Regions from separate parts of the Homo sapiens genome. Here all the other regions are reported to be linked to region 1. The links are microRNA targets in miRTarBase. Many come from high-throughput screens and were not tested one by one. Region 1 holds a microRNA gene; each other region holds the end of a gene's coding sequence.
What was found. The annotated mature microRNA hsa-miR-148b-3p reads UCAGUGCAUCACAGAACUUUGU and lies in region 1 at 2,505-2,526, shown strand. An mRNA with a match to its seed (bases 2 to 7 or 8) in the 3' UTR can be bound and repressed. Matches are read on the target gene's strand: a 7mer-m8 pairs with bases 2 to 8, a 7mer-A1 pairs with bases 2 to 7 and ends in A, and an 8mer does both.

Region 2: miRTarBase lists SYNE1 as a target of hsa-miR-148b-3p. The part of its 3' UTR that is shown has no 7-base or 8-base seed match.
Region 3: the mRNA of SMARCA1 is a reported target of hsa-miR-148b-3p. The part of its 3' UTR that is shown has no 7-base or 8-base seed match.
Region 4: the mRNA of DPT is a reported target of hsa-miR-148b-3p. The part of its 3' UTR that is shown has no 7-base or 8-base seed match.
Region 5: the mRNA of RHAG is a reported target of hsa-miR-148b-3p. The part of its 3' UTR that is shown has no 7-base or 8-base seed match.
Region 6: miRTarBase lists POU4F3 as a target of hsa-miR-148b-3p. Seed matches in the 3' UTR shown: 7mer-m8 at 3,273-3,279.
Region 7: miRTarBase lists RGMA as a target of hsa-miR-148b-3p. Seed matches in the 3' UTR shown: 8mer at 817-824.

What each region holds. Positions count from the first base shown.
Region 1 is chr12:54,334,774-54,338,840 of GRCh38, forward strand. MIR148B (microRNA 148b) reads left to right here and starts at 2,443; the gene lies at 2,443-2,541. All of the region lies in intron 1 of COPZ1 (coat protein complex I subunit zeta 1), which reads left to right.
Region 2 is chr6:152,118,662-152,122,728 of GRCh38, forward strand. SYNE1 (spectrin repeat containing nuclear envelope protein 1) reads right to left here. Exons shown (of 146, transcript NM_182961.4): 146 at 3,026-4,015. The coding sequence ends at 3,775. It also overlaps a transcript of ESR1 not described here. Among named protein-coding and RNA genes, the nearest start is that of SYNE1-AS1, 260 kb to the right of the region's middle.
Region 3 is chrX:129,443,853-129,447,919 of GRCh38, reverse strand. SMARCA1 (SNF2 related chromatin remodeling ATPase 1) reads left to right here. Exons shown (of 25, transcript NM_001282874.2): 25 at 687-1,414. The coding sequence ends at 758. Among named protein-coding and RNA genes, the nearest start is that of SMARCA1, 78 kb to the left of the region's middle.
Region 4 is chr1:168,693,206-168,697,272 of GRCh38, reverse strand. It overlaps DPT (dermatopontin), which reads left to right. Exons shown (of 4, transcript NM_001937.5): 4 at 658-1,805. The coding sequence ends at 724. Among named protein-coding and RNA genes, the nearest start is that of DPT, 34 kb to the left of the region's middle.
Region 5 is chr6:49,602,378-49,606,444 of GRCh38, forward strand. It overlaps RHAG (Rh associated glycoprotein), which reads right to left. Exons shown (of 10, transcript NM_000324.3): 10 at 2,798-3,453. The coding sequence ends at 3,436. Among named protein-coding and RNA genes, the nearest start is that of RHAG, 32 kb to the right of the region's middle.
Region 6 is chr5:146,340,115-146,344,181 of GRCh38, reverse strand. It overlaps POU4F3 (POU class 4 homeobox 3), which reads right to left. Exons shown (of 2, transcript NM_002700.3): 2 at 2,454-4,067. The coding sequence ends at 3,738. It overlaps RBM27-POU4F3 (RBM27-POU4F3 readthrough), which reads right to left. Exons shown (of 20, transcript NM_001414499.1): 20 at 2,454-4,067. Among named protein-coding and RNA genes, the nearest start is that of POU4F3, 3.3 kb to the right of the region's middle. RefSeq lists a silencer at 3,359-3,559.
Region 7 is chr15:93,041,394-93,045,460 of GRCh38, reverse strand. RGMA (repulsive guidance molecule BMP co-receptor a) reads left to right here. Exons shown (of 4, transcript NM_020211.3): 4 at 1-4,067. The coding sequence ends at 463. Among named protein-coding and RNA genes, the nearest start is that of RGMA, 46 kb to the left of the region's middle.

The DNA of each region.
Region 1 (4,067 bases):
GTGAACCCGGGAGGCAGAGCTTGCAGCGAGCCGAGATCAGACCACTGCACTTCAGCCTGGGCGACAGGGTGAGACTCCGTCTCAAAAAAATAAAAAAATAAATAAAAGTTGGCACAGAGGCCAGGTGCAGTGGCTCACACCTGTAATATTAGCATGTTGGGAGGCCGAGACAGGCAGATTGCCTGAGTTCAGGAGTTCAGGACCAGCCTGGGCAAGATGGTGAAACTCCATCTCTACTAAAATAAAAAAAATCAGCTGGGCATGGTGGCAGTCACCTGTAATCCCAGCTACTGAGGAGGCTGAGACACGAGAATTGCTGGAACCCAGGAGGCGGAGGTTGCAGTGAGCCAAGATTGTGCCACTGCACCCCAGCCTGGACAACAAAGTGAAACAAAGTGAAACTCTGTCAAAAAAAAAAAAAAAAAAGTGTTGGCACAGAGTCAGGAAGTATACCTACTTAGCCATTTGGAGCTGGGAGTGGTATCTAGGAATTTCTCCTTCTAGTTTTTACCTTCTTAGTTTTACTTTATAAACAGGATTGAGACAAGAGAATCTTGTTACAGTTTTTAATTCACCAAGACCCATTGCCACATCAGGGTAATGCCACATCAGGCCCTTTTGGTATGGCCTTAGGGAATGTTTTTTTTTTTTTTGATCTGAAGTCTTGCTCTGTCGCCCAGGCTGGAGTGCAGTGGTGCGATCTCAGCTCACCGCAACCTCTGCCTCCCAGGTATAAGCGATTCTCCTGCCTCAGCCTCCTGAGTAGCTGGGATTACAGGCGTCTGCTACCATGCCTGGCTAAGTTTTGTAATTTTGGTAGAGACAGGGTTTCACCATGTTGGCCAGGCTGGAAGGATTTATTTTTAAGTAGACAATGAAGAACTTTTTAGTGATCTCAGTCAGCTTCTTTTTTTTTTTGAGGCGGTCTCACTCTTTTGTGTAGGCTGGAGTGCAGTAGCGCAATTGTAGCTCACTACAGCCTTGAACTCCCAAGCTCAAGCGATCCTCCTGCCTCAGCTTCCTGAGTAGCTGAGACTACAGGTGCATGCCACCATGCCTGGCTAATTTTTGTTTTTTTTAAGTTCTTGCAGAGACAGGGTCTCACTGTGTTGCCCAGGTTGGTCTTGAACTCCTGGCTCTAGTGATCTCCTGCCTCAGCTTCCAAAAGTGCTAGGATTACAGGCATGAGCCACTGCGCCTGGCCTCCATATTCTTATTTGTGCTCTTTCAGCTCTGTAGATGGCATCCTGTAATTCCCTCCATAGAGGCTTCTTGGTTTTTTCCCCTAAATGAATCAAATAATTCATTATAGTTTCCAAGTATCCTCTCTACCTTCCCCAAACATATTCTCCCAGTCTTCTGGTGGCTTACTAAGATCTTACCCCAAAGAGTTCTCTTACTATATACATTGTGAACAGACTTAATTCACTTATTTTTCAGGGCCCATCTCTACTAGTTTGTCCTACAAGACACACAAATAGAGAGCTTTTGCCGGGTGCGGTGGCTCACGCCTGTAATCCCAGCACTTTGGGAGGCCGAGGCGGGCGGATCACGAGGTCAGGAGATTGAGACCATCCTGGCTACAGTGAAACCCCATCCCTACTAAAAATACAAAAAATTAGCCGGGCATGGTGGCAGGTGCGTGTAGTCCCAGCTACTCGGGAGGCTGAAGCAGGAGAGCTTGAACCAGGAGGCGGAGCTTGCAGTGAGCTGAGATCGTGCCACTGCACTCCAGCCTGGGCGACAGAGCGAGACTCCGTCTCAAAAAAAAAAAAGCTCTTATCCAGAGCTGCCTTTGAAAAATATTTTTGCTTATGACTGTAATCCTGTGGAAGCTGCAGGTCACCGAGAAGGCCCACAGGGGGCAGCACTAGGAATGACTCTTTCCCTCTAGTCCTCTATGCGCTAGGGGAGAGAGTTCTTGGAGATGTTGATGCTTTTCACCAGGCTTTAGAAGCCCCTGATTGAGGCCGGGCACGGTGGCTCACGCCTGTAATCCCAGCACTTTGGGAGGCCGAGGCAGGCAGATCATGAGGTCAGGAGTTCGAGACCAGCCTGGCCAATTTGGTGAAACCCCGTCTCTACTAAAAATACAAAAATTAGCTGGGCATGGGGGTGTGTGCCTGTAGTCCCAGCTACCCGGGAGGCTGAGGCACAAGAATCACTTGAATCCGGGAGGTGGAGGTTGTAGTGAGCGGAGTTTGCTCCACTGCACTCCAGCCTGGGTGACAGAGAGAGACTGTCGCAAAAAAAAAAAAAAAAAAAAAAAAAGAAGCCCCTGAGATCAAAGATTCATTTGCAGCAGCCTAGTTGCTTGTTCTGTGGTGTTTCACCTGTCTTGAGGACAGCATTCTTGTTTTCTTGATAATAAAAACATAAATACATGAAAATCTGTCTAAGTCACCCAATCTCCCACAAAACAATCTGCCTATACATCATTTCCAAGCACGATTAGCATTTGAGGTGAAGTTCTGTTATACACTCAGGCTGTGGCTCTCTGAAAGTCAGTGCATCACAGAACTTTGTCTCGAAAGCTTTCTAGCAGCTACCCATTTTGGGAGTGGGAGGGAAGAATAGACCTTTTAAATTCTTTCAGTGTGGCCCTAAGCTGATAAGGTCTTTCTCAACAGTCAGCATTTAATGTGTTACAAGGTCAAGCCTAGTCCATTGTCCTGGAAGCCCATTTCTCAGTAGCTGGGAGTTATTTATAAACTTGCCCTTTGCAAAAACTTAAAATGAAATTACATTATCAGTAATGACTTCTGGGGCCTTTAAACTGGCTAGTTTTATGGCATAGCCCTCCCCACTCCTGAGAGGTAAAAGCCCCAGGCTGAAGTGGAACCAGCTGCAGTCAGGAGGTGGCAGGAGAAGTAAAGAAGCTGCTGGCTCCAGCTGTAGCAGAATGGAGAATTGAAGCGGCATTTAAGCGCCTGCCTAAATTCTCAGCTTTATTTAGTATGCTTCCTCCTTTGGAAGTTTGAAATGACCAGCCTTTTCTGTAATGCCTTCTTTCCCTTTTGAGAGCTCCAGTAAGCTCTATGTCAAATCTAGTCTTTATCCTTGTCCTCCTTAGCCTGTCTTTTATTCTTCCCAGGAAGATCCAATGTTTCTATTTTTGGGGTTTCTTTGATAATGTCTTCTAGGAAGCCAGTGAAAAGAACCAAGAGCAGAACCCAGGGATATGTTCTCTCTTTGCCGGTGTGGCTGTTGTAGGCACTCACACCCTGTTGGCCACAAAGGACATTGTCTGACTCTCCCAGTTGGCTGGGGGCCATTAGGGCTTTGCTTTTCTTTGGGTTCTAGGGATGCCAAACTCTATGGCTGCAAGAACCAGTTTCCTATGCCAGGTTAATGCCCAGCTTAAACTAATGGGCAGCTCTCTAAAGTTGCTGTGAATGTGGATAGAGGAACAGAGCCAAAGATTTCCAGGAAAAGGTTGTGGGAAAAAATGATTTCGTCTAAATTTTGTTCCTTTTGGACTTCTTTTCTTCCATTAAGAAAACTCATTCCCATTGTTGTCTCCCTTTTGGAATTGAGGACCCAAGTTGTTATAGAACTGAGCCTGCTTTACAGGAAGATCTTTCTGTGAGGAATTAGGAGTTAGGAGAGCTGCTTCTACTTGTGACCTTTTAAGACTAGACTCTAGAGGACTTCCCTCCACTAGGCAACAAAGTTCTTTAGTTTGAGAGAGGAGTTACTCATGCCTTGTTTATTCCAGAGTGTTATATATACAGGATGGACATCTCTAAGGAGTGTTTATCAGAGGAGGGATAAAGTTGGTAGTAATATCACCCAAAGTGGCCACATCAGAAAATCCACTTATATGTGGAGGTCTAATTATAAGTAGTCCCTTAGATGCATACTGCGTCAAGGTATTTTAACTTTATTCTCAAACTTCCTTTATTCTCTGAATTATTCACCAAATATTGAGAGTTTAGTATGTGTCAGGCATTGTTCTGGACAAATGGGACAAACCAGCGAACAAAACAAAAATTGCAGTCCTCAAGAATTCAAGTAGGGAAAGCTTATGTTCCTCATCACCTTGTTGTCAAAAGACTGGGTTCCTT
Region 2 (4,067 bases), not on the chromosome of region 1:
ATGCAGGGCTTAAAACCTAGATGATGGGTTGATAGGTGCAGCAAACCACCATGGCACATGTATACCTGTGTAACAAACCTGCACGTTCAGTACATGTATCCCAGAACCTAAAGTAAAATAAAAAATAAAAATAAAACAAACAAACACAAGAACTTCTGAGGTCCTCCCCGAGAGGACTCCCCGAGGGAGCTTGGAGCAGTTCCTGCCACATAGTGGGCATTCAGTGAACTACTTGAGAGATTAATGTCTGTTGCTCTCCCCAGGCACTTCTGGACCTATCTGGTACACACTCAGGATATTTCAATTTCTCCACAATCCCCTGTGAAGGTTTGGCGATGGTGCTGGTGAATTGGTTGCACCGAACAAGGAACCTGTCCACTGGGCTGCTTTCAGGCAGCCCAGACCAGCCCTGGGAGGCCCGGCTTTTCTGGACACGATTAGCTTTCATAAATCATCTCTCTCCACTATTCTTTGCTTTACGATCTTTTATGTGGTTTGTCAATTAAGTTTTGTAGCTATAATGTCTTAATATTTGGCCCTGGGGTGTAGGCTATCAATCAATCTACTCTAACCTGCATTTTTATAGTAAATCTCAGGCCTCGGCATGTTGAATTTCCCATCTGGGCCTTCAGAAGTCTTCTCTTCTCACTTCTTACAAAAACAAGAGAAGCTACTGTGGGTCCATTTTCCAGGAGGGACATTCCTGCTCCTCAGCCATCATTTCCCAAAAAATCCTTTCATTTCTCCCGGGATTTCTTATTAAGTTACTACTTTTAGATTCTAATGCCTTATTTTTCCATGTTAGCTATATTGGATTCTTTGTTCACTTTTCTAATATTTCCCATTTGCTTGTGCAAATCTCCTTACCACCATGTTATTAACCCTTCCCTTCCCATCCTTCCTGGTCAGTGGATGGTCTCTTTATGCCCTTCCTCACCCAGCACTCACTTGGGACACCATTCCCTCTCTCCAGGCCACAGCAGGGCTCCTGACTGTCCTCACTGCAGAAATGGAAGCTTCTTCAGCAGCCATCAGTGTCCTTTTATCTCCTTACTATTCTTTAAACCATCCCACATCCCTTCCATGAAGCTTTTTCTCTCTGTTGCCAGAGCAACCGCTGGGTGCGGGTGAGGATGCTCATGGCCCCATACCCATCTCCCCATCATCTGCGTCTGGCGTGGCCCTTGCTAAATTGGCCAATCAATCATCTGGGGAAGAGCCACGACCTCATGGGTTCAATGTTTGCACTCACCAGGGTTCCCTACTTCTTCGAAGGTTCTGTTGTTTAAATCTTCAAAAATGTAATGGAAATGGATGTTCTACACCCCTTTGGGGGTTTCACAGGGTTTTGAGAAAGGCACAGATGGAATGTATGCTAAGATTTTTCTTAATTGAAACCAAATGTTTTTCTCAGCAACATTTGCCATTTGATTCTTCAGTGACGGGAGATGCCTAGGAGGAAGTCAGTTGACAGTGATGTGGAGAAGAAATGCTTCTGAAGTCTCTTTGCGCTTGCCTTTTCCACGATGACACTCTTCATTGTGTGGGATTTCCATACCCCCTGAAGGGCAAAACTGCTCTGGAGGGAGGACTTCTCCTTCCAGATATCGGGAGGAGTGACAGGAAAGTGAGGGAAGAGCGAGGCCTGAAGAGTGCTCCATCTCAGATGAGGGTGCAGGGCACCCTTCAACGCCAATGGCCACCGCTGCTCACAGCCTCTCCAGAAGCGGGAAGATGGGACACTTTAACCACGAGGTGGTCTTCTCTATAAAATAACAGTGGGCGGGGGGCGATCCATCGTGTTCCCTGTGGAACACGATGGGTTCATGGGCCATAAGATACAGACAATCTGACGGCAAGAAGCCGAGTAGTAGAGAGAAGTCTTAAATACAGTGTGAAAGTGATCAGGAAATTTTTCAAGAAGGAGGTGGCTTGTGAGCTGAGTCCTGTGGGGCAGGCAAGGAGGAATGAAGTTAAGGAAGCAGAGGGCAGTGCTTTTCAGCAGTTAGGAGGAATAAAGTCTCCTCAGGCATCTCTTTAAAATGCCGGCTCCCAGGCCCCATCCCAGAGGTTGAACTAGGAGGTCTGAAGCAAGCCCGGGACTTGGAAAATCTAGCAAACCCCAGGAACCCTAGTTGAGATGGACTCAGACTACCTGCATTATGGAAAGCACAGACGGCAGTTTCAGGCAAGGTGAAGGGCCTCAGTTTGGTTTAAATACTCAATTTAGAGCAGGATTTGTAAACTTAAATACCTCTGGGGCTAGGGTGACACAGACCTTGAGAGAAGTTGAAGGTTTACAAGTACAAAGAGGAGATACTCTCTCTCTCTCCCCCAATTCTGGAAGGGACAGCAGCCAACAAGCTCCGGCAATTACTGCCATGCAGGAATATGTGCTCCGGACTAGGGCACCAGAGCTGTCTACCAGAAGAGAAGCCAGAGACCTGAGTTTTATGTGCCCCAGAATTATTAAATGATACATTAAAATGCCACGAGCATCACATAATTCCATGAAGTCCACTATAGTAGGCAAGTTCAGAGGAGCAAAATAAAATCTCATTGCATATGGACTTAAATGATAGAAGAAAACTGTATTTTATCCGGTAGACAATGAACAATAGAAGGCTTTGCAGCAAAGAAGGAATCTGAACAGAAGTGTGCTTTAAGAAGATTTCTGTGGCTGTTGTCTGCTCGCAATGGAATGGAGAAGGGACCTCAGATATCAGCTCCTAGGAAGCCTCTCCCATGTGCAAAAGGAATGGAGAATAGAGGATGAAAGGTTTCCGGAAACAAGAATTCAGGAGATTTGATTGACTATGGAAGGAAGAGAAAAAAAGGAATCACCTGGGGTCTTCTATGTCTAAATCCATGCTGCCTCTTGCCATCCTTTTCCTTTAATATACACTAATGTTCCAGCTTCATTCATTGCACAGAAAAATGATCATTTAGGTTGCATTCTGATCAGTGCCTGCTTAATAATGAAACTTAGAGTTATTTGTTTAGGGAAAAAAAAGCACAGACAAACTATTTTATAATATCTATAATAAATGCAAAGAAATCAATACAAACAAAACTTGGCTTTAGCAAACTGTACATACATAAATATCTTTTTTTTTTTACTATAACATTCAACTTTTTTCACATAAAGCCTTCCATGATCTTATTTATTACATCTAGTTTTTCTTTATACCTCTAAAAAAAAGTGCCTTTTAGATTTACAGCTTGTGCTTCTAAAGCAAAGGTTAAAACATCATGCCCCAAAGGAAAACAAGGTAAAAAGGAAGCTGCCATATAAGCTCTTAAAAATTGTATGTTACAAGGTTCTAAAATCTCTTCAGCACTGGTTGGTTGGTAGATTGTACGACACTGACATGGTGCTTGGGAGGGTCATTTATCTGATGGTTGGAGCAGCACCATGGGAAAGCTGCCCAGATGGTCTACTGAAGTCCTTGGCTGTGCACAGAATGGGCCAAGGGCCCAGAATTCATGAGTCCGGGGAACTTTGGAGGTCCTTACTCAATCTCCTTAGTGCTAAGGTTCAGAGTCTCAAACCAGATTTCTTCCAAACCTTCTTGTTGTCTGTTTGTTCCCCCGTCACTGTTTATCTTCCACCTCTGAAGCCATAATTTGCACACATGTGATCTGGAGGAGGGCTAAAGCTGCCACACCGAGGGCTTTCGCCAAGATCAAGGTCCTCTTGTTGGTAGTTTGGGATTGCTTATGACCCGATCCTCCTTATGCTACCAGCACTTCTGCAGATGGCATCTGCTTAGTTCAGAGTGGAGGAGGGCCATTCGTGTATCTGAGCATGGGGTGGAATGACCGGGCAAAGTTGTTGGAGAGGGCACAGCTGTAGTCTTCCTCTGACATTGGTACAAGGCAGGCAAGCCCGATGAGGAGGAGCAGGAGAAGCTGAAGGGGAAGAGCTGCTCGGAGGACTCTGAACAGGAAGCCGCGGCCGGACCGACCTGGCCCTGGCTCAGAAAGGGAGGAATCGGAGCCACCTTTTGTGGACCTGAGAGAAGAATGGACATAAATTACTCAGATAACTCCAGTGTCGGAGGGAC
Region 3 (4,067 bases), not on the chromosome of region 1:
CTGAGCAGACAACAAAGCTTTGCTTGGTAATAAGTGAACTGTTGAATTGATAGGATAACTTGATTTTAATCCAGTCAGGTTGCTTTGTACAGCTGTAATTTAAAATATTCTTTAATAGATCGTATTATTTGAGTGTGGTTAAGTAAACTGCCATATTTCATCGAATCTAAGATGCCTTCCATTGTAAGACACAGCATTATTTTATGTACCACTGAGGGAAAATGCTGCCAGGTGTAATTTGTCATCAGTTGTAAGTTGCATCCTGATTTCAGAGATGCTAAAATGTGAAAGAAATGTGTATCATAGAAGATATGAAATATGGTATGTTAAAACCTATCATAAGTTTTTTAAAAAATATATACTCATAAACAAAATTTTGCCCAGAAAACATTAAGTAGTTCTTTAAGATAAGAGTACATTTATAATACCATGTGTAAGTAGATACTTGATGACTATTTTTGATGGGTATTTTATGTCTTTTCATAAAAAGAAACATCTTTGAAGGTTATTTTACATTGGGTTATATAGTTTGTTGGGCTATATAGAACATTAACTGTGAATATAACATTTAAGTGAATATTCATGTTAAAATTTTTTTTTAATGCATTTACATCCTAGATTTAACATTGTTGGGCCATTTAAAATGTGCATATTGGAGCAGAACATTAAATCTGTTTCCATTTTAGTCACAGAAAAGAAAAGCAGAGTCAGCTACTGAGAGCTCTGGAAAGAAGGATGTCAAGAAGGTGAAATCCTAAAGCCTAGAAATAAAGTTTTAAATGGGAAACTGCTATTTTCTTGTTCCCATCTTCAAATGCTAATTGCCAGTTCCAGTGTATTCATGGTACTCTAAGAAAAATCTCTTTGGTTTTGATTTCTTGCATATTTTATATATTTTACAATGCTTTCTACCTGAAATGTGTAGCTTTATATTTTATGGCATTCTAGTATTTTTGTGTACTGTATTTTGTGCATTTCATGTCTTCATCAAAATCCTCTCAGTCCTTGTTCTTTTGAAGCTTGTGCTGAGGTTTTAGCTTTTCTATGTTTTATATGCCGCTGCTTTGAAAGAGAACCTAGATTCTATAGTTGTATTATTGTTGTTTCATACTTTAAATTTATATGGCTGTGGAAAAACGAATTAAAATGTTTTGAGGAGAAAGACTTTTTCACTTCTTTGTTGCTTTCTTTTCTATTGAGTCTGGGCTTGTTTGTGTTACTGCATACTGTGATTAGCATAATAATTGTTTCTTTGAGGTCATCTAAATATTTTTTTCCTAAAGGAATAAAGGGTGAGGAAAGAAAAATATTAAAAAAGCTAATATTTGATACTGTGCTTGCTGTCAGTATGCATTACATTTAAATTATTCTCTATTCAAGTGGGAAAATATAATAAAGAAATGTCTATAAGAAATTTAATTATTTCCTGTTTTTTTGTGCAGTAGAAAGTAGTTGTGTTTACTGAATTGTATTGCTTACTACTGTGTATTTGGTTCAAAGTTAAAGCTTTGCTTGCTGACTTGTGTGTGATCTTCTGTCCCATAGAGCCAGTTCAGAAGGGCCTGGGTGTAACATGTAGAATTATTAACAATTAAGTTTAGAGTATGAAATAAGCACTATGTATGCAGAAGAAGGGGGGCTGTGTTTGTCAGGAATACAGTTATGCTCAGGTAACAATCTCAAAGTGTCAGAGGTTTTACACACCAAGAGTTTTTTTTTCTTGCTCACACTACATATCTCATGCAGGTCAGAGGGATGTGGGAATGGGAAGGGATCTGCTCCACACGGTAACTCAAGGTTCCAGGATGACTAAGGCTCTGCTATTTTGTGGCTGCAACATCTGGAACATGTGGCACTTAGGCTCTTTACTGCCTCGGCCTAGAAGTGACACATGTCACATCCACTTATATTTCATTGCCACCAAAGTAGTCATGTGGTCCTATATACCTGAAAGAGGGCTGGCAGATGTAGGGGAATAAATGGAACGTCTTACATTACTGCCTCTGTCACAGAGACTGTCAGTTCAGGAACGAAACTGGGTCTATTACATGAAACTTTTAGTGTGGAATTAATCAGAATCTGGGTCAGGTTGTAAGACAGCAGGGAAAATGGATCAAAATCTAGTGTGAAATACACAACCAATAAGTAAAGCTGAGAATGCAGGATAATGATGTTAGTTACCAAAACAAGGTCTGGACCACTAAAGAGTTGTCTCTTCCCCCTTCCAAGATCTTTTGCATTTCCTATCAGACTCTTTTTAGTGCACTACTAGCAAATTCTGGGTAGCCCCTGAGTGTTAGTCAGCATTCTTCACATCCTCAATCTTTTCATAGAAGTTCTCCAACAGAGGAATAGATCTTCTAGAACAACAACCCACTGTCTGTTGGACTCTTCTAAGTCTCCATTCATTGTCCAGATTTTATATCTCTTACTGCCATGTTTCTGGTTGGATTATTTTTTCTGTTTCCACTATTAGCACTTAGACTCTTGTACCCTGTTGGGGGTTGGGGTAAAATTGGGGTTCTATTAAGAGACAAGGTTGGGACGATATTATATCAGGGGACCCAGGGATACCCAAATCTGTCCTTGGCTTAGCTGCCTTTTCTGTAAGAAAGGGAGGCTAAGGTGAGCAAAGTAATACTTCACTAGCTGGTGCTTTGGCTGCAAACTCCAGAGCTCTTCAGCCCAAAATCTAACCTTGGAATTTTCCACTCCAATGATATGAATAGCTATAGTTAGTCATCTGCGCTGGAGAAAATGATACCAGGGAGTTTTACTGATAACCCCAAGTTCTGTGCAGTAGAAAACAGCCTAATGAGGGTCTGGACTCTGATCAGTCAATTCAGCCTTTCTTTTCCTAGGGAGCAGAGAAGATGGCAGGTGGGAGTGGGCACAGTTACGGTCTTTGAACCCCAGCATGGACATTTAACAATCTCTACTTCTCATTCTTTCTCTGGTAATCCAAAGGGTTCAGTAGCTGAGCTAATATGTGATTCTCTACCTTAGGGGAGAAAATCTGCAGGTAAGTTCTTGTAGCCTTTTCATGGAGTCATTTCCCTGTTCCATATCATGGCTGTTATGAGTCTTTCTTGGACCAAAGTGATGTGAAATTCAGCTCCCCAAGGCCTTCAATGGATGCTTCTGATGTCATCCTTAGAAACTTGTGAAATAGTTTTATTCAGGACTTAACTTAAAGACCACACTATATATTTAGTGAAAAATTCACCTATTCTACTTCTCATCTTAAAGTATGTATAGCTACACTGTTGAACCTAGCCTACCAAACAGACCCATACAGTGAATACCAGATGATAGCTTAGTCCAAATAATAGCATCTTGGAAGTACAAAAATGCCTCAAGTCTGAATATGAAACCCCTCTTATTGTTAAATTTCTACAGAGAAATTAAACTCCCATTGAAAATGTAAAAATCCCAAGAAGGAAATACCATTTCAAACAAGTGGTCTAGACATGGCTGCTATGTTGGGGAGAGAAACCTGGATTGTCAGTTTACTGTATCAGCTCCGTGGAGGCCAGAGGAAGCAGAAGAGAGTGCTATATATGTGAATGCAGTCTTATAAAGCATAATGACTCTGCCCACCAGCAAAAATGGTCCAGTGGATTACATTGGAATCTGACCCAACCTGATTCCTTGTTTGGAAAATGTACAAGGAGGAAAGTGAGCAGAGAAACAGAGACCCTGAGTGGCTTCCTTCACTCAAGGCCTCTATCTGTAAAAGATAAGGGGTGAATGGGATTTCCCAACAACCCTAGATCTTCCACAGAGGTCCTTGTAAAGCTCTGTCTTGATTCATTGGCTAATCAGGCTCTAATTTCCTTAGAATCAAAAGAAGGCAGGTGGTGAGCTCAGTAATCTCTTGTTTTCATCGTAGCCGTTGGTATGGCTTTATTGTATAGTTCTATCTTTTTCTCTGGCTACCTGGCCTACAGGTGTTATGCTATACTTGGATACTTTTCAGATTACACAGTTTTCTCGTGAAATATGTTTCCAAATTTGGTTCTTCGTCTAAGACTCCCAGTTAAGAGAAGTTTTTGAACTAAAATATT
Region 4 (4,067 bases), not on the chromosome of region 1:
CTTTTTTTTGAGACAGGGTTTCACTCTGTCACCCAGGCTGGAGTGCAGTGGCACCATCTCGGTTCACTGCAGCTTCAACCTCCCGGACTCCAGCAATCCTCCCACCTCAGCCTCCCAAGTAGCTGGGACTACAGGCATGCACCACCACACCCAGCTAATTTTTTGTATTTTTTTGTGGAGTCAGGGTTTCCACATATTGGCCAGACTGGTCTCAAACTCCTAGCCTCAAGCAATCCACCTGCCTCAGCCTCCCAAAATGCTAGGATTGCAGGTGTTAGCTACCAAGCCCAGCCTAAAACAAGATTCTTTACAATGAAATGGAGATGATGTTAAATAAATGCTTTTATTCCAAGCTGTTAACCCACAGGTCCTTGAGGTACTTTCTGGAGGCAGCAGGGGTGAGCTGACCACCAGTGATGAACAGAGGCCTCCACACAGCCAGTGACCTAATTAGTCACCTTCAAGGGTGACCTGAACTCACAGATTTGTCGGTTCTTGGGAAACTGCATAAAGATGTCTTCTAAGAGCAAAGTGAGATTAAGTGTCCCTTCAGTTCCCAGATCCTCCAAATGTTCTCTGCTGCTGTTTCCCCAGCAGCGATTCTTCCTGCCATGTCCTTTCTCACTGACATTCATTTTCTGACTCTCCCTCCCACAGGGATCGCCAGTGGAAGTTCATAATGTGCCGGATGACTGAATACGACTGTGAATTTGCAAATGTTTAGATTTGCCACATACCAAATCTGGGTGAAAGGAAAGGGGCCGGGGACAGGAGGGTGTCCACATATGTTAACATCAGTTGGATCTCCTATAGAAGTTTCTGCTGCTCTCTTTCCTTCTCCCTGAGCTGGTAACTGCAATGCCAACTTCCTGGGCCTTTCTGACTAGTATCACACTTCTAATAAAATCCACAATTAAACCATGTTTCTCACTTTTCACATGTTTCATAGCAACTGCTTTATATGACTGATGATGGCTTCCTTGCACACCACATATACAGTGCGCATGCTTACAGCCGGGCTTCTGGAGCACCAGCTGCAGCCTGGCTACTGCTTTTTACTGCAGAATGAACTGCAAGTTCAGCATAGTGGAGGGGAGAGGCAGAACTGGAGGAGAGGTGCAGTGAAGGTTCTCTACAGCTAAGCCTGTTTGAATGATACGTAGGTTCCCCACCAAAAGCAGGCTTTCTGCCCTGAGGGACATCTTCCCACTCCCCTGCTCCACATGAGCCATGCATGCTTAGCAATCCAAGTGCAGAGCTCTTTGCTCCAGGAGTGAGGAGACTGGGAGGTGAAATGGGGAAATGGAAGGGTTTGGAGGCAGAGCTGAAAACAGGGTTGGAAGGATTTCCTGAATTAGAAGACAAACGTTAGCATACCCAGTAAGGAAAATGAGTGCAGGGGCCAGGGGAACCCGTGAGGATCACTCTCAAATGAGATTAAAAACAAGGAAGCAGAGAATGGTCAGAGAATGGGATTCAGATTGGGAACTTGTGGGGATGAGAGTGACCAGGTTGAACTGGGAAGTGGAAAAAGGAGTTTGAGTCACTGGCACCTAGAAGCCTGCCCACGATTCCTAGGAAGGCTGGCAGACACCCTGGAACCCTGGGGAGCTACTGGCAAACTCTCCTGGATTGGGCCTGATTTTTTTGGTGGGAAAGGCTGCCCTGGGGATCAACTTTCCTTCTGTGTGTGGCTCAGGAGTTCTTCTGCAGAGATGGCGCTATCTTTCCTCCTCCTGTGATGTCCTGCTCCCAACCATTTGTACTCTTCATTACAAAAGAAATAAAAATATTAACGTTCACTATGCTGAAAATATTCAGGGTCAGTTTTTGCTCTCTACTCTTTCCCTTGCTGATTATTTATCCATTCATTCTGAAAATCCTGGTTAGCATTGTGGTTTGTGCCAAGCACCATGCAGACCCCAGGAATAAAATGATGACAATGACAGAGTGTGGTGGGGGAATCAGATATTTAAGACATAAAGTGCTAAATGCTTTACTTAAGATTAAACAAAGGAAGGAATCACATTTCTTGGCCTTTGAGTTCAGCCTAATCTTTTCTCAGCATCCTTCAACCTTCCTCATCCCAAGATGTCACATGAATTTTTAACCACAGGAAGTCCCTCTTTTCTTTATCCACAGCAGATTGCCTTTTTTTTTTTTTTCTGATCCATGCTGCTCTTCCCTCATCCTCTCTCCCAGTGGACCCAGAAGAAGAGCCAGCCAGGCAAAACCACAGGGATCGCGTACCTTGCCATACACCCCCTCTAGGTGGTCAAGAAGGTGACTCTCAGCCAGTGGTGATGGTATTTCCCACGGCAAGATCCCAGCATTGTGATGGGGAAGGCAGGGCTAAGGATATCTTCTCCTGCCTTAACTCCTAAAACACTTTTTCATATTAGAGCTTTGCTTTATTTCCTCCATGTCATTGTTTCTGACTCTCTGGCAATTTTAATTTATAATAAGATGCTTCGGTGTTATTTTTCACAAAGGGAGCCATTAATATTTTAGCAATTTCAGCCTGGTTCAGGATGGAAACCAGGAAATAGCCTTAGTTGGGTATGTGGAGCACAGCAGGAAAGGAGACAAGCAATGCTGATTGGCTGACTTGGCATCCATGAAGAAAGCAAATGGCTGGTGAGAGGATGGGGAGCTGGGAGGGTGCAGGGAGCATGGCTGGGGGAGGAGAGGCTGCAGCTGGGAGTAGCCAGGAGACTGCAAGAGGACATAAGTCAAGAAAAAAAACTTCTTTAAAGCAATTCAATAAATAGTGCCTGTGCCAAGTGGAATAAAAGGAGTTTCTACTAAGAAGAAAACTATTATTTGCACGTAGATAGGCCAAGGACAATGACAGAAAAGACATTGTCAACTTGGTTTGAATCTGAATAATTATACTTTATGTTATAGGTCTTTCAATAAGAACTAAGTGTCAGAGTGAATACTAAATCCCAGATCTGGTAACTGCAAGTTTTGTTCTCTGTTTTTTCATTACTCCAAACTTTCTACTAACTTGCTCCACAGTCTTGGATAAGTCACCTCTCCTTTCTAGGCCTACTGTTTAAAATGAGGACATTTATCTAGGTAACCATTGTGGTTTCTCGCAATTCTAAGAATCTCTGAACTCTATCACCTCCTGAATTGTTTATAAAGGGATTTTCTAAGGCATTTTCTTCCAGGAAAGGAGCCTGGAACTAAAGATGATAACCTAGGGCCTACCGCTGGCTCTGACAGAGGGTGGCTGTGTAAGATTAGAGAAATCCCCAAGCCCCCTTCCCCTCATCTGCCCAGTACAGGTAGGAATTCCTTTCTAAACAACTTTACAAGATGCTGGCCACATACAATGAGATAATAGAAAGAGGAGATACATGATTCCTGCCTCACAAGGCCTTCAGCCTAATGGTGAGATGAGAAGATAGATGATGACAATAACTGCAAGAAAGTTTCCTGAGGAAGCCGAGTCTATGCTTGGCCCTGAAGGACAAGTAGGACTTCTGAGGTGAGTAGAAAAGACTGTAAGCTCTGGCGTCAGACTTCCTGGACACAAATCATGGTCCTGTCACTTCCCAGCTTTATGACCTTGGCCACGTCACCTACCTTTCCTGAGACTCTATTTCCTTACCTGTAGAAATATAGTACTTACAACACAGGGTTACTGTAAGAATTAAATGAGATCACATAGTGTCTTGCATATAATAAGTACCCAATAAATGTAGTCAGAGAAGGAAAACAGTGTCAGTATATATTGGAAATAAAATTCCTTAGGTAAGCCGGATTTTAGTAAACGTCAATAATAGGAAACATTTATCAAGCAAACTTAAGTCCCACTTACATTTGCTCAGTAACTGAATCAATAAATTATCAAGTGTTTATTATATACCAACCATTTTACTAGGCACAGTTCCTGCATTCTGGAGAATTATAAACTAAAGGAGTTAGTCAAGCAAACAAACCGTGACAGTACAGTTTGATAAGTCAAGGGCAGGCGGCATTTCAATAGAAGGCGGTGAGAGGTCAGGATAGGAAAGGGGATGGTAGAATTTAAGGCAATGGAAATGATATTATGGAAG
Region 5 (4,067 bases), not on the chromosome of region 1:
GAATGTAATCCAGCATATAAACAGAACCAACGACAAAAACCACATGATTATCTCACTAGATGCAGAAAAGGCCTTTGACAAAATTCAACAGCCCTTCATGCTAAAAACTTTCAATAAATTAGGTATTGATGGGACATATCTCAAAATAATAGGAGCTATTTATGACATACCCACAGCCAATATCATACTGAATGGACAAAAACTGGAAGCATTCCCTCTGAAAAGTGGCACAAGACAGGGATGCCCTCTCTCACCACTCCTATTCAAAATAGTGTTGGAAGTTCTGGCCAGGTCAATCAGGCAGGAGAAAGAAATAAAGGGTATTCAATTAGGAAAAGAGGAAGTCAAATTGTCCCTGTTTGCAGATGACATGATTGTATATCTAGAAAACCCCATTGTCTCAGCCCAAAATCTCCTTAAGCTGATAAGCAACTTCAGCAAAGTCTCAGGATACAAAATCAATGTGCAAAAATCAAAAGCATTCTTATACACCAATAACAGACAAACAGAGAGCCAAATCATGAGTGAACTCCCATTCACAATTGCTACAGAGAGAATAAAATACCTAGGAATCCAACTTACAAGGGATGTGAAGGACCTCTTCAAGGAGAACTACAAACCACTGCTCAACGAAATAAAAGAGGATACAAACAAATGGAAGAACATTCCATGCTCATGGGTAGGAATAATCAATATCGTGAAAATCCCATGCTGCCCAAGGTAATTTTTAGATTCAATGCCATCCCCATCAAGCTACCAATGACTTTCTTCACAGAACTCGAAAAAAACACTTTGAAGTTCATATGGAACCAAAAAAGAGCCCCCATTGCCAAGTCAATCCTAAGCGAAAAGAACAAAGCTGGAGGCATCACACTACCTGACTTCAAACTATACTACAAGGCTATAGTAACCAAAACAGCATGGTACTTGTACCAAAACAGAGATATAGACCAACGGAACAGAACAGAGCCCTCAGAAATAATACCACACATCTACAACCATCTGATCTTTGACAAACCTGACAAAAGCAAGAAATGGGGAAAGGATTCCCTATTTAATAAATGGTGCTGGGAAAACTGGCTAGCCATATGTAGAAAGCTGAAACTGGATCCCTTCCTTACACCTTACACAAAAATTAATTCAAGATGGATTAAAGACTTAAATGTTAGACCTAAAACCTTAAAAACCCCAGAAGAATACCTAGGCAATACCATTCAGGACATAGGCATGGGCAAGGACTTCATGTCTAAAACACCAAAAGCAATGGCAACAAAAGACAAAATTGACAAATGGGATCTAATTAAACTAAAGAGCTCCTGCACAGCAAAAGAAACTACCATCAGAATGAACAGGCAACCTACAGAATGGGAGAAAATTTTTGCAATCTACTCATCTGACAAAGGGCTAATATCCAGAATCTACAAAGAACTTAAACAAATTTACAAGAAAAAAACAAATAACCCCATCAACAAGTGGGCAAAGGATATGAACAGACACTTCTCAAAAGAAGACATTTATGCAGCCAACAGACCCATGAAAAAATGCTCATCATCACTGGTCATCAGAGAAATGCAAATCAAAACCACAATGAGATGCCATCTCACACCAGTTAGAATGGTGATCATTAAAAAGTCAGGAAAGAACAGGTGCTAGAGAGGATGTGGAGAAATAGGAACACTTTTACACTGTTGGTGGGACTGTAAACTAGTTCAACCATTGTGGAAGACAGTGTGGCGATTCCTCAGGGATCTAGAACTAGAAATACCATTTGACCCAGCCATCCTATTACTGGGTATATGCCAAAGGATTGTAAATCATGCTGCTATAAAGACACATGCACATGTATGTTTATTGCACCACTATTCACAATAGCAAAGACTTGGAACCAACCCAAATGTCCATCAATGATAGACTGGATTAAGAAAATGTGGCATATATACACCATGGAATACTATGCAGCCATAAAAAAGGATGAGTTCATGTCCTTTGTAGGGACATGGATGAAGCTGGAAACCATCATTCTCAGCAAACTATCGCAAGGACAAAACACCAAACATCGCATGTTCTCACTCATAGGTGGGAATTGAACAATGAGAACACTTGGACACAGGAAGGGGAACATCACACACTGGGGCCTGTTGTGTGGTGGGGGGAGGGGGGAGGGACAGCATTAGGAGATATACCTAATGTAAATGATGAGTTAATGGGTGCAGCACACCAACAAGTCACATGTGTACATATGTAACAAACCTGCACGTTGTGCACATGTACCCTAGAACTTAAAGTATAATAAAAATTATATATATAAAATAAAATAAAAGAAAAGAAGTCAACTATGTCAAGTAATATACATGAATAAAATATAAATTATATAATTTTTTTCAAGGAATAAAATATTAAATAATCCACTCTTAGTTATAATTTTTAAGTTCATTCTGAAGCTGGTGTTCTGTTAATTATGGTAGGGCTGATTTCCTTGTTGATACCTAGATACATCTTGGGAACATTTCAGGACTCCAAGGCTAGAAGAAAAATCTTTAAAAGCTTCCAGATAGAAAAAATAAGTTATTTGATTTTCTTAAAAATGATTTTTTGACGATGTCAGTTATCTTTTCTAAAATTTAACTTTTTACAACATTCTATAATGAGACATTAACTTGATTTTTTAAAAATAGCAAATACATGATAAATATTTAAATTGAGTGTGGACTAAATATGAAGTGTGTGTGTGTGCACCTGTGTGCTTGTTACTGACATGAATTCCAACTACCAAAGAAAGGAGAGTCAAAGACTGATGTTTTATTTTATAACAATATTTAATTATTGGACATTTTATGCAAAATAGACTTTGATCAGATAGCATTTGAGCTCGTTGCAAATAGTCAACATGCAAAAGGAATTAAGAATAATATTCATGCAAGGATACAACATTACTAACTAGACTATTTTTAAAATAAAAAGCACTACCTAAAATCATCATATTACTACTTTACACACATGCATTTCTTTAATTATTTTTTTACATAGATTTCTCACATCTATTCTTGCTTCATGGGTTTCAGTTTTATAATTTTTGGGATTGAAGACATAGTGTCTACATTAAGAAACTGACATGTTTACTCTGTATTTACTCACTGCCAAAAGCTTTTTGGGAATCCTGGAGAAGATCTATTTGATTATCTGTTTTATGAGTAACATCCCCTCAATTAATCATTGAAGAGCAAGAGACAGCATCAGACATAAGGACATTTTTACACTGGCCATTTGGGACTTAGGATCTATTCACTCTGGTCCATACTCTCTTTGGTTACTCCCTTTTTGTTTATTTGGACTTGATTCTGGATAATGGGAAAGGAAGCTGGAGAGCAGGAATGGTGTTTAGACTTCAGGTTCCAGCTGGCTGTGGTCACCATGTCCATGGAACTGATTGTCAAGTTATCTCGTCTTAGGGACCTTTAAAAAAACAAGTTTGAGGGCACTTAATAGTTTATTTCACTGTTCTTGTCAGAAATTAGTATTGAAACAAAAATATTTTTGGTAATTATTATTCAAGCTTGGAAAGAACTGGGAATAAAAATTGTTTGAGTTGAAGAAAAATAAAAGAATAAAACATTTATCTCACCCACCCTGACTACATTCCCGCTTTTCCAAACTCATTCTCTCTGAAATTTTGCTGAAAACACCCAAACATCTATCCCTCTCAAGCTTTGCGGGAAATAATTTGGGAAAAAGTATCAATAGAGTAAAGAGAAACTGGAGGATAGAAAGAGGCTGATGTTTCGTTATTCATAGGACCTCTTGATGTGTACTCACTCAAATTCTTCAACCTTATATATTTCACTTGCTTTTGACTACTTTTATGTATAGCATAGTTTAAAATTATGTTAAATTTCTTTTGTTTTTTGTTTTTAACCAAATAAACCTGTGGACTATATATGGTATAAAATCTCACACTATTTCTGAGAATTCATATTATTTTTACGAATAGCTTTTTATGGCTCTCAGAGGAGTGAAACAACATTTACTAACTAAATTCTTTTCTTTCTGTCTTTCTGTCTTTCTGTCTG
Region 6 (4,067 bases), not on the chromosome of region 1:
TGAAAGCCTGTGATGCAGACCACCGCCTTGCCCCGATCCCCATTCCCAGGGAGACTTGCCTATCCCTGATGGCTCTGTTCCTCCCTACAGTCCCTTGAATCCAGAGGGGATTCGGCTGGAAGGGGTGCTTTCATTTTACAAAACAAAAACCTAATTCATTCATTCAACAGACATCTAGTGTCTGCCACTCTAGGCCAGACCTTGAGCAGAGTGCTGGACATGAAGTAGTGAACAAAACTGAGACTACTTAGGCACACAGAGAGGAAGTCGCTGGCCAGAGATAACACCGTTCAGGAGCCCAGGACTCCTGCCACCAAGTTCTGCCTACCAGGGCTTTAGTCATGCTGGAATGTGTATGCCTAGCTCATTCTAGATGAAGCCCCTGTTCCAGCCAGGTAGTTCTCAAAGTCCCACCCTCCGGAGGCCCGATGCAGGTTTCCATGCAAACACCCCCAAATACTGACTTCACTTTCTCTTGGTACAAGTTAAAGAAACTCTCAGCTGAGTCTTGGACCGTACGTGTTGCAAGCTGACAGAATTAGGAAAATGAAAACCTGCTCCAGGTGATCTTAGGAAACACCCTCAATTACTCTTCAAAATAAATTTGGGGAAGTTTTACAGCTGGCAGCAGAGGCTTAGAGAGGCGATATGACTTGTCCAAGGTCACACGGTTCGGATGCATACTAGCCTTGTGTAAACCCCAGACCTGCTAGTACCACCTCCCCTCCCCCGAGAGGTCTGTGCCTCCGCCAGACGAGTGGCAAAGGCGACTACACAATCCTGGGGAAACCACATCTCCAGTTGCTTCCTGAAGCAAGCCGAAGAGTGAGGCGACGGCGCCGTTCCGGCGCACTCAGGAGGAGGGAAAGGGTGGAGCGCTTCGCTGACCGGGCTGCAGCTCCGGCCTGCACGTAGGAACTGGTGAAAATACTCCTGCGCATCACCGTCTCAGGCGCCTGAAGAAGACTAGGCTCAGAGGCATGGCTCGGAGACTGGACCTAGTGCTACTGGACCGTCTTGGAGCAGACCTTGCGCTCAGGAGGCAGCTCCTCTCATCCTCTCCGTAAAAGTCTCCCAAACTTTTGCAGTTGTCAATTAAAAGAAAAAAAAAGACTAAATAAATAACGGCAGAGAACTTTTCGAAAAGAGGATGGAGGCAGATTTCCGGTTCTCTCCAGAGCCCGAACATGCGAAGGCTCTTCTTACCTGCAGGAAACCTTGCAGCCCGCAAAAGCGCGTCCTTCTGGAGCGCTTCGCTTCGGCGCGGGACGCTCACGGTTGTCTCCTCTGCAGCCCGGCTGGGCTCCTGCCCTGTGTTTTATACCACTATAGGCAATTAATATTGCATCAGCCGTATTTTAAATTTTCAAAACCCACAATATAATGTAATGGCATAAGGGCATTTATTATTAAAGGACACCCGATGGAGAGGGAGGTGGAGGAATCGCTGGGGCTGTTGTGCAAGGCGGGGGTAAAGGGCTGAGGCCCAGGGAGCTGGGGGAGATCCGCAAGTTAGCTTATGCGGTAGGGGGTGTCGCACTGCGCGGAGGGCAAACCCACTCTGCTCCGAATTTCGGCCCCGTGGTTTGATGACCCGCAACTCTTTGAGGACGAAGCAGGGAAATGTGCAGATGACTCCTGGACTTGGAGCATTAAATTTTAAATCAGGAAGGCGTTTCTACAGCTCGCAAATAAAAAGAGGGAGCGTAAAGAGAACAGGGAGCTGGCGTCTATGGAGCACCTACTATGTACAGGGCACTATGCTAGGCGCTTTGCAGCAGTTATAGCAGTACCCCCACAAAGAAGCCGAGGTGGACCCCAGAGTGAATAACAACCTGGATGAGAATTTCAGATGAATTTGGAACTCTGAGTGGGTCCCACTAGAGTGTCCCAGCGAACACTTTTCTCCCTCTTTGCCTCTATTATTTCACCTCCTTTCAAGCCCTTTGAATCTTTTAAAATAATTTGTTGCCTACAAAACCCAAGCACTAGTTGACGTCTTAAATAAACAATCTCACCTAGTCCTGACAATAACCTTGTGAAATAAGCGTTGGTCCCTTCATTCTGCAGACAAGCAATCTTGTTGGAGAAGGCTTAGAGAAATTAAGAAATTAGCCTCAGGATGGTTCTGCCAGTGAGCAGAGGCATTGGAGGCTCGAATTTCTATTAGTCCGGCTTCAAAGTTTACTAGCTAAGTCAAATTGAGCAGAGTCTCATGATGGCAGGCAGGGAAGCATGGAAGGAAGTGCCTTGAAACCTCAAGTTCAGACACAAGCCGCAGGGTCTCCCACGAGGAGCTCCAAGTGAGTCTGCCATGGAAGAGGAGTGGGGAGAAGGGATGGCTGGGGGCTGGGCAGCAGAAACTGACAGCCCAACCCTTTGGGGTTCTCCTTTTTAAATCCTTTTCAAAGCTAGTACCCCTTAGCCTCTGAGAAAAAATAAAACCACTTTGATTCGGGTTGAAAAATAAAGCATTTATTTTAGAAGTTAATTCAAGGGGTAAAGGGAAAAGAAAACTTAATATTTTATTTGTATCTATTCAGAGAATGAAACCAAAGGTCACACAGCAACACACAAACTACATGAAACAACGAAAAAATAAAATAAAATTTGGGCTAGAGGGGCAGGGTGAGAAGGGTTCAGGCCCATGGTCCCACTCCTCTTCCCTCACAAAACTATAAGTGAACTTCCACCGAAAGACACCCACATAAAGGGAATGGAAAGAAGCAGAATTAAATAAATAATAGTAATGAACGATGTTAACAACAACAGTAATAACAAAAGTGCAAGGAGGTTAGACGTGTTGAAAGGACTTGCATATAATGCAGAGAAGTTACAGTCGTTTTCCAGCAGCCGACTGCACGCTGAGCTGGCAATCTGGCAAGAGCAGCGAGCTGGGGTCAGAGAGTCCTCAACGGTTATGAATACTACAAACTCCCGCTCTCCAGCAAGCAGTAATTACCCCTCAAACACCAGTAGGTAGTGAAAGATGGCCAGAGCTGGTGCTGGCAGCTGATTACAAACAGCCAAGCGATCCCAGAATTTTCAGTCGCCAGACTGGGCCCACCTGTTTTGGAGCCCTACTTACCACGAAAAAATGGCAACTTGGAGCCCGCAACTCCCTGCATACTTTCCCTGAACCTAATCTTCATGCTACCTTATGAGAATTTACGCCAAACCAAAGGATAAGGTGAATAGAATTTAGGCAAGGAAGGGAGTATAAGGCTATCCTTTGGAAACATACATGTATTTTATATACTCTAATAAATCTCCAGTGCATGTTTGTGTCCCCCTTAGATATCCTAGACTTTGTGTTATTATTGATCACTTCCTTTTTATCCCTTCACCCTTTGCCTAATCGCGCTTAGCAAAGTGGCATTTTCACCCTAGCTTCGGGCGGTTGGGCCAATTGACTGTCCTCTGCTTTGGGGCTCCTGCTCTGAAGTCGTGCGGCCCCTGCGCGAGGGCAAATTTCAGCACCACGGACAGCACAAGTACACTCAGGCCCGCCCTTCTGCAATATTTTCCCAGCGCCAAAATTTTTTTGGTGGGAATAGAAAGGAAAGAGAGAGAAGGCCGGAGGCAACCAGGCGGGACAAAGGGGGAAAGTCTGTGGCTTCGGAGGAGAGAGCCTAACCTGCCTAGGAAACGCCTTGGAGTTCCCGATAACCATCCCCCGAACCCGGGAGGGATGAGCACTAGGCTCTCCCGGCTCCCGACGCTGCGCCCTGCCGCAATCAGTGGACAGCCGAATACTTCATTCGTTTCTGTTTCTGTCTCTGGTTGCAGAACCAGACTCTCACCACGTTCTTTTTAAGGTCCAGTTTCTCAGCGATGGCCGCGATCTTCTCAGATGAAGGACGTGGCTGGATAGCGAAATAGGCCTCGAGTGAACGCTTCTCCGGCGCCGCGATGGACGTGCGTTTGCGCTTCCGTTCGCTGCCGTTGAAGAGCTCTGGCTTGCTGTTCTTCTCTCGGTAGGCGGCCTCGGCCTCCTCCAACCAGGCCTGGAGCACCGGCTTGAGAGCGATCATGTTGTTGTGCGAGAGAGTGAGAGACTCGAACCT
Region 7 (4,067 bases), not on the chromosome of region 1:
AGAGGAAGTGGTCAATGCTGTGGAGGACTGGGACAGCCAGGGTCTCTACCTCTGCCTGCGGGGCTGCCCCCTCAACCAGCAGATCGACTTCCAGGCCTTCCACACCAATGCTGAGGGCACCGGTGCCCGCAGGCTGGCAGCCGCCAGCCCTGCACCCACAGCCCCCGAGACCTTCCCATACGAGACAGCCGTGGCCAAGTGCAAGGAGAAGCTGCCGGTGGAGGACCTGTACTACCAGGCCTGCGTCTTCGACCTCCTCACCACGGGCGACGTGAACTTCACACTGGCCGCCTACTACGCGTTGGAGGATGTCAAGATGCTCCACTCCAACAAAGACAAACTGCACCTGTATGAGAGGACTCGGGACCTGCCAGGCAGGGCGGCTGCGGGGCTGCCCCTGGCCCCCCGGCCCCTCCTGGGCGCCCTCGTCCCGCTCCTGGCCCTGCTCCCTGTGTTCTGCTAGACGCGTAGATGTGGAGGGAGGCGCGGGCTCCGTCCTCTCGGCTTCCCCATGTGTGGGCTGGGACCGCCCACGGGGTGCAGATCTCCTGGCGTGTCCACCATGGCCCCGCAGAACGCCAGGGACCGCCTGCTGCCAAGGGCTCAGGCACGGACCCCTCCCCTTCTAGTGCACGTGACAAGGTTGTGGTGACTGGTGCCATGATGTTTGACAGTAGAGCTGTGTGAGAGGGAGAGCAGCTCCCCTCGCCCCGCCCCTGCAGTGTGAATGTGTGAAACATCCCCTCAGGCTGAAGCCCCCCACCCCCACCAGAGACACACTGGGAACCGTCAGAGTCAGCTCCTTCCCCCTCGCAATGCACTGAAAGGCCCGGCCGACTGCTGCTCGCCGATCCGTGGGGCCCCCTGTGCCCGCCACACGCACGCACACACTCTTACACGAGAGCACACTCGATCCCCCTAGGCCAGCGGGGACACCCCAGCCACACAGGGAGGCATCCTTGGGGCTTGGCCCCAGGCAGGGCAACCCCGGGGCGCTGCTTGGCACCTTAGCAGACTGCTGGAACCTTTTGGCCAGTAGGTCGTGCCCGCCTGGTGCCTTCTGGCCTGTGGCCTCCCTGCCCATGTTCACCTGGCTGCTGTGGGTACCAGTGCAGGTCCCGGTTTTCAGGCACCTGCTCAGCTGCCCGTCTCTGGCCTGGGCCCCTGCCCCTTCCACCCTGTGCTTAGAAAGTCGAAGTGCTTGGTTCTAAATGTCTAAACAGAGAAGAGATCCTTGACTTCTGTTCCTCTCTCTCCTGCAGATGCAAGAGCTCCTGGGCAGGGGTGCCTGGGCCCCAGGGTGTGGCAGGAGACCCAGTGGATGGGGCCAGCTGGCCTGCCCTGATCCTCTGCTTCCTCCTCACAACCCCAAGAGCCCCCAGCCCGGTCCATCCACGTCTGGAGTCTGGGGAGAGGAGCAGGGTCTTAGGACTCTCAGCTCTGAGCATCCCTGGCAGGGTCTTCAACCTCTAATCTCTTCCCTTAAGCCCTGTGGCCACACAGCCAGGAGAGACTTGCCGCTGGCTCCCGCCTCATTTCAGCCCAGGGTGCTCATCCAGGGGCCCAGAACAGTCCCACCTGTGCTGCTGTGCCCACAGCACAAAGCCAGGCTTCACTCCCAAAAGTGCAGCCAGGCCCTGGAGGGTGATCCTGCCAGCAGCCCTACAGCTCCACACCCTACCCACCCATCGGCAGCCCCTCTGCTGTTCCCCAGGGACCTCTCATACACTGGCCAGGAGGCTGCAGAACGTGTGTCTCCCCCTCCCTCCAAGAGGTCCTGCTCCCTCTGCCAGAACCGTGTGTGGGCGGGTGGGAGGGCGCTCGGGGCCCGGCCCCTCCCTCTCCCTGCTGGTTTTAGTTGGTCCCTATGTTGGAAGTAAAAAGTGAAGCACTTTATTTTGGTTGTGTTTGCTCACGTTCTGCTTGGAAGTGGGGACCCCTCACTGCGTCCACGTGTCTGCGACCTGTGTGGAGTGTCACCGCGTGTACATACTGTAAATTATTTATTAATGGCTAAATGCAAGTAAAGTTTGGTTTTTTTGTTATTTTCTTTTAGACGTGTTGGAGTTTGTTTTCTGAACAGACTTTGGCTCCCTTGAGGCGGGTGGAGGATGGACTTTGGTGGTGGGATCCCCTGCAGCAAGTGTGTGTGTGTGCGCGCATGTGTGTGTGCGCGCATGTGTGTATGCATGCCTGTGTGTGTGCGTGCCTGTGTGCGTGCATGTACGCATGTGTGCGCATGCCTGTGTGTGCGCCCATGCCTATGTGTGTGCATGTAGGCATGTGTGTGCGCATGTGTATGTGCGTGAGAATGGTGTGAAGGCGGATAGAAGATGCAGCAGTTTAACAGCCACCACACATTGCTTTTGTAAAGTCACTTTTCCTCCTCACGATGAGCTGTCTTTGGAGCTTGGCAGGCCCAGATCCTCTTGTTCTAGTGACAGTGGAACACAGTCAGGGAGACAGGTGACTATGTGGTGGAGAGACATATGGTGCCCTCTGGGATGAGATGGGTGGGATAGCCTGAGATCTGGGATGACTCCCTCTCAGCCACTGCTATCAGCCTGGAGCCCCAGCTGTTGGGACTGCCTGCCACCCTCCCTGCCAGTGCCCATCTTCTCATAGCCCGGGCGGAGCAGTGGTGCTGCAGGAGGCTGCTGTCCACGTCACTGTGGGACCAGGTTTATTGGCAGCTGTGATCACATTTCATCTGTACAAACTACCCAGTGAATCAGGAAGAAATTCAGGCCCATTTTGCCGATGAAACAGACTCTGAGATTAACTGACTTGCCTAGGGCTCCTTAGCAACGGGAAGGACAACCTGTGCACCTAGGTTAGTATTGTCCTGAAGCCCCTTCTCTTCAAACTAAATGCCATGAGGCAGAATAGCAGCACAGTTAAGCCAGCCTACATCCTGGCTTCTCCACCTCCCCAGCAGTGTGACCATGGGCAAGTCACTTCACCTCTCTGAGCCTGCATGCTGTTCTCTGGAAGATGGGGGGGTGCCTGTCCCATACAGTTGTTTGGAGAGTCAGGAGTTCATTCCTGTAAATTGCTTAGGAGAGGGCGGGGCACACATGGCTTGTCTGGTCGTGGGGAGGGAGGGGGTGGTATTATCCCAAAGCAAGATAAATCAGTTAAGGGGAGAAGGAAAGGGGCGATACAGACCCTGGACTCTTGGGAGAGGTGAACCTGCAGGCTAGCAAGGGGAGGAGTCCCAAGAGTGGCCAAGTTCATTAATCCCAGGCAGACCAGGAAGGCTGAAGAAAAAGGAGAACTTTATTTTATTTTTGAAATGGAGTCTGGCGTCTTGCTCTGTCGCCAGGCTGGAGTGCAGTGGCACCATCCCAGCTCACTGCAGCCCCTGCCTCCCAGGTTCAAGCAATTCTCCTGCCTCAGCCTCCCAAGTAGCTGGGACTACAGGCACACACCACCACGCCTGGCTAATTTTTTGTATTTTAGTAGAGATGGTGTTTCACCATGTTGACCAGTATGGTCTTGATCTCCTGACCTCGTGATCCGCCTGCCTTGGCCTCCCAAAGTGTTGGGATTACAGGCGTGAGCCACCACCGTGCCCGGCCAAAAAAGGAGAACGTTCTAAAGCCCTGTTCTTGCAGGGCTCCCAGAGAGAACACGGGAGTTGGGTTTGGGAGGCAGGAACCAGACTGGAAAGGACAAAACGTACCCAGCATCTTCCCTGGCGGCCGGAACCGTCACTACAGGCCCCGTGCCCTTAGCAGTCCCAGGGACAGAGCGACTCAGGGAGGCAGCAAGGAGGAGCGGAGCCATTGGTGCTCGTCCGGCACAGAGAACAGTTCCTGAGAAGCCAGGGCACACAGAAGAAAAAGAAAAAAGAAATCTCTACTAGACGAAAATGCTAAATGGCACTAGCCACAAAGTATTCTTGGTTTGGAATTTTTTTTCCAGGACCCTAAATGTAACCGGCTGGAATTCTTTCCCAAGTGCCATGCTACTTACTACTGGTTGCCCTCACGAGCATGGAAATGCCGTCGTGAATATGGAACACAGCATCCTGAGCTAAAAGATTCCCAAGAAGCAGCTTCATC